Linked DNA regions of Homo sapiens: region 2 is linked to region 1. The links come from fine-mapping of genetic effects on gene expression. Tissue or cell type: whole blood. Region 1 holds a variant in brackets; the other region holds the start of a gene. All regions are shown on one strand. Distances are between the middles of the regions.

What was found. PIP is the estimated chance that this variant, and not a neighbour inherited with it, causes the effect.
Region 2: EDN1 starts here. The variant in region 1 is fine-mapped to the expression of EDN1 in whole blood (TOPMed, PIP above 0.99).

The regions. Positions count from the first base shown.
Region 1 is chr6:12,086,850-12,089,534 of GRCh38, forward strand. HIVEP1 (HIVEP zinc finger 1) reads left to right here. Exons shown (of 9, transcript NM_002114.4): 3 at 2,335-2,388. Among named protein-coding and RNA genes, the nearest start is that of HIVEP1, 76 kb to the left of the region's middle. The variant C/G (reference allele first, on the strand shown) is at 1,536.
Region 2 is chr6:12,288,731-12,291,415 of GRCh38, forward strand. EDN1 (endothelin 1) reads left to right here and starts at 1,631. Exons shown (of 5, transcript NM_001955.5): 1 at 1,631-1,963. The coding sequence starts at 1,900. RefSeq lists enhancers at 1-240, 1,384-1,483, 1,494-1,563.

The DNA.
Region 1 (2,685 bases):
CAGTAAACTGTCTTGTATGAATCAGTTAAGAGCGTGTAGTAAATGACTACTTTCTTTGTAATTTTGGAGAGTGTCTTTAAAACACATCATATTTACCAGGAGAATTATAAAAACACACTAAATATAAACAGGAATTGTAATAAAACTTGCCCAAAGCAAAAGCTTTTATAATGGCTGTTACAAGCTAATTGGAGATTGTTTACCTATTGACGTGGAGCTATAGGTAGAAGCATTTGAGGAGGTACTTATTATATTTATTGTAGTAGCTGTCCTAAATCAGTAGTCTAAATTTATATACTGTTATTATCAAGATAAAAAGGTAACTTAGTTGAAAATTTTAAAAGCAGAGACTAGTATTTTGTAAGCAGATATAAACAAGTTATTTTTGTAAGAGTTTTGTTATGTTGAAGTGCAAACAGAAAGTGGCCAAACTTCAATTACTTAACAACAGCTATTCTGTAAGTATTTGTTAATCATGAGTTCTTGTTGCTTTAAGCCACAACTGATTCTATTAAGAAAAGTTGTTTTGATTATATAATGCAAAATTATGTGCACATAAACTATTAAGCACAGTTGTTACTACTGTGAATATATAATACATATATATTATTTATGATTCTTAAGTTTGGGTGAATTACTGGCATAGAAATAATAGTGCTTTGGTAATAAAAGTCCTTTTACATGTTTTTCAAGTACTATATGTTATGTGATTTGTTTATTATTTATAGTTTGAAAATCTGCAGGTAATTCATGTATTTCGTTTTTTAAAAGTGGGTCTTAGCCTTTTGTTACTTACACTGTGTTAATACGGATTTCATGCAAGCATTCCATATTTTTCTGTCTGAAGCAAAACTACCACTGAGCACAGGATCCAGTTTCTGCATTTAATGTGTGTTTTTTTCCAGGACTATTTCAACTTCACTCATCGTTTCATGAGCAGTAACTAAAGTTTATAAATAAGAAAAATTGTCTTATTCCAAAGATTGCCTGTACTACTCTCAAATTATATTCTGGATCTGATAATTCGCAGGAAGCAAATAAGACATTGCTGTGGGCGATACATTTATCAGGATGAAAATTTAGTTATTTTTGACTATTGTTGAGATGTAATGTCCTATATTTCAAACTAGCTTGCTTCCTTTGTTCTGTTCTCCCACTTTGCCTTGGCAAGTTGGATCAATATGCAATTGAAAGACGTTTGATCTGTAAATAGAAGGTTCTCTGAATTTCTTGGCCTTTCTGGCAAGATAGGGAGAGAGGCAGGTAGATCAGAGTTTGAAGGGCCCATGGTGTGCGGTGTCTGCCTTTTATTTATTTGGAGTAGGATACCATATTGGAGGTTACATCTTCCATGGCCAGTGAGCAGCGGTAGGGTCAGCATTGGAGACAACTTCTGAGCTGATGCGTTTATTTAAATTGTACTTACACATTTGGGATATGTAGAATGTTATATAATTATCAATATTGTCTTCAGTTCAGTACAAAATAGTACCCTGGGAATTTGTTCCTTTTGCCATTTTAATAAGTACCTAGAC[C/G]AGTGTGTTAAATTTGGAATCGATTACTGCCCATGTCATGAAGTATGTATATCCTTATAAAGTTTAAATTAATTATTATTGAAATAGAGCATGCACATATTTACAAAATCCAGTTGTGCCCAGAGCCCCAGGTCAAAGAACAGCAGGAGCAAGGCACTGCTCCCAATTCTCTTAGTTATTGCTCCTGGGTTACATCTGTCTGACAAAACTGTGCACATGTGTAGCAGTTCTGCAGTGAGTTGTGTATAGTACCTCTTGAATGCAGTACTCTGTCCTCATACTTCATAGATGCTGTCAGCTCTATGCTGCCAGCAAGGGATATAGACACTTTCTGCCATGCCATATTTCAGCTCATCCTCGTCTCTGTTTTTCCATCCTTTTCTGTCTTCTGTCTTAAGTCTTAGCTTTGCTTAATCTGGTTGTTTCTAAGCTAGTAAGCATTTGTTATATCTCTAAAATCCCTATTAGGTACTTTGTATGTAAAGATAGTATTATTTTTAGATACTTTGATTAGATGACTAGACTTTTAAAGCTGTAGTTCAGTATCTAAAGTGTACTAATTATTTGCATTATGGAAACATTTATTAATTGGAAATAGTCCTTGTGACTAAGAAATGATTAAAATTATGAATTTAAAAGGGAATATATCCTTCAACAGTTTATACACATCTGTATCATAATTTATTCAACACATTTTTTACTAGGTATCTGACACTGTTTAAAAGTAGTATGTTTGCTTTACTGTACTCTTATTTGTTTAAGGTAAATTAATTTATAAATTTTTCTCTGTTTTTCTTAGACAAAATTGAAGAAGCACAAAAAGAACTTAATGGGGCAGAAGTTTCAAAAAAAGGTAAATTAAAATCAGCTTGAATGTAAACTTTATTCTTGCAATGATGCCTATACATATACCTCATAAATGTAGCCTTATGAAATAAATCAGTATAGACATATCACAAAATTAGAAATCCCCTTGAACTTATTGATACTTAAAATGTTGTGGACTTTGCTTCATGAAACATTTTAGCCACATAGCACATTCTATAACTGTTTCCCACATATTAATGTATGACTGGTAGAAGTGTGAAAGGTTATTGCAGCTCTTTTGAAAGTCCTGTTTGTGAGACTGTCCTGTAGCAATAAAAGTACC
Region 2 (2,685 bases), 200 kb after region 1:
CTGTCCAAACCCACGGCTTTGCTGTTGGGATAAAAACTGTCCTTTTGATTTTAGAAGGAGGAGGGAAAAAAGGTTTCCCAGCATGTGTGTTGTGCCAGTCTTGGAAATTCATCCGTGCTTGAATTCCACCCTCCATCCCCAGAAAAACTGGAGTAAAACAAAAAGAGGAGATGGACAAAGTGTGTATTTGATGGCATCCCCTGGGAAGAGACTCTAAATTTATCCCATAGGTCTTACTGGGCCACTGTGAGCGCTTTGGTGGAGAACAAACAAAAATTCTGGGTGCTCAGTTGTCTAACCTGAAAAATGGGACTAGCGGAAAAAGCCAATGTGTTCCATGCACCTTTTGCTTTCTTTATTAAGGCATGATGTCACCTGTACAGTAACTGCCCTGTGTGTACTTCAGGGGGGGATTTCAAGGTTAGATAGACAGGAAATTGTTTTGAAAATGTAAACACATTATTAAATGTGAAGTATTATCTGATTCCTTGTTCGAATGGCATTTCCTTCTCAGCACCACCTTCCTTGCATATTCACTTAACCTTGTACAAGAACACCTTTTTGCCCTAAATGAAGACACCCCCCCAAAAAAAAGAGTCCCAGAAAATATGTCCCTGCTTGTGCGGGGAATAAATAGAATATTCTGAGGTGCATTCCTCCTTCCTATGTTAGGCAACATTCCTTGACCCTCCTCGGCCCCCAAGCCAGGTTGCGTTTTTTTCTGCCATTTAGAAGGGTTTTCCTTTTTGTCCTAGTAAAACATCAGCCCCTGTAGCTCTTCATCTCCCCCTGGTGTTCTTCTCCCGCCATGTCTTAAGATTGGTGGCACCGACCAATCTTAAGATTTAAGTTCTGTGTGAAAAACACCTTTGCTTTTCAATCAGTTTATCAGCCTCCTCCGCAGGGGAAGTGTGGACACACAAAAGAACTTATCGGGGCTTCTCATCAGTGATAGGGAAAAGACTGGGCATGTGCCTAAACGAGCTCTGATGTTATTTTTAAGCTCCCTTTCTTGCCAATCCCTCACGGATCTTTCTCCGATAGATGCAAAGAACTTCAGCAAAAAAGACCCGCAGGAAGGGGCTTGAAGAGAAAAGTACGTTGATCTGCCAAAATAGTCTGACCCCCAGTAGTGGGGCAGTGACGAGGGAGAGCATTCCCTTGTTTGACTGAGACTAGAATCGGAGAGACATAAAAGGAAAATGAAGCGAGCAACAATTAAAAAAAATTCCCCGCACACAACAATACAATCTATTTAAACTGTGGCTCATACTTTTCATACCAATGGTATGACTTTTTTTCTGGAGTCCCCTCTTCTGATTCTTGAACTCCGGGGCTGGCAGCTTGCAAAGGGGAAGCGGACTCCAGCACTGCACGGGCAGGTTTAGCAAAGGTCTCTAATGGGTATTTTCTTTTTCTTAGCCCTGCCCCCGAATTGTCAGACGGCGGGCGTCTGCCTCTGAAGTTAGCAGTGATTTCCTTTCGGGCCTGGCCTTATCTCCGGCTGCACGTTGCCTGTTGGTGACTAATAACACAATAACATTGTCTGGGGCTGGAATAAAGTCGGAGCTGTTTACCCCCACTCTAATAGGGGTTCAATATAAAAAGCCGGCAGAGAGCTGTCCAAGTCAGACGCGCCTCTGCATCTGCGCCAGGCGAACGGGTCCTGCGCCTCCTGCAGTCCCAGCTCTCCACCGCCGCGTGCGCCTGCAGACGCTCCGCTCGCTGCCTTCTCTCCTGGCAGGCGCTGCCTTTTCTCCCCGTTAAAAGGGCACTTGGGCTGAAGGATCGCTTTGAGATCTGAGGAACCCGCAGCGCTTTGAGGGACCTGAAGCTGTTTTTCTTCGTTTTCCTTTGGGTTCAGTTTGAACGGGAGGTTTTTGATCCCTTTTTTTCAGAATGGATTATTTGCTCATGATTTTCTCTCTGCTGTTTGTGGCTTGCCAAGGAGCTCCAGAAACAGGTAGGCACGCTCGTTGACTTGTAAGTCTCGGAATTACAAGTTAGTGTGTTCTTATCCACCTTCATGCTTTTCTTGCTTCTATTTTTCCCCGTTCTTTTTATGACTGCAGCTTAGAGAGCAAGTGTCTGAGAATTATTGCTGAAAGCTACTTTAAGTCTTCTAGTGTAAAATGTAAAATTCCTCTATTGAATACAATTAGGTGCAATTGACTATAACATGACATTAAAATAACTTATCGTTTTATTATTATTATTCCATTATGTGTTTCCTTGGCTTTTAAAAAATGAGAAGAGTATGGACATATACAATTTAGTCAAATGTATGTTTGTAATATATGTGTTTATACAGGTACACAGGCCATATAGGAACTTAAATCTTATTTAAACACTATTTTAATAGTGTGTTAACGTGTAAAATATTTAAGCATTCCAGCTTGAAGCCAAGGAATTGTATCCAGTCGTTCAAGCAATGTATGTTCAGTAAAATCACCTGCAGAGCAAAAGTCTGTTGACTAACTACCGCCTCCCCCCCCCCCCGCCACCACCCCCCGCAGGCGGTTTCTGGGTGAAGCAGATGTTTTCTTTAAAATTTGTCATCATTGACTTTAGGTTTCTTTTGGCAGGTTTTTGGCACCCAAAACAGTGTGAGCTCTCTTTTCAGCTTTATTCACCTGTGCTGGGAGGGGAGCTAGGATAATTCTTGGCTGCCGAAGGATTTAGGCA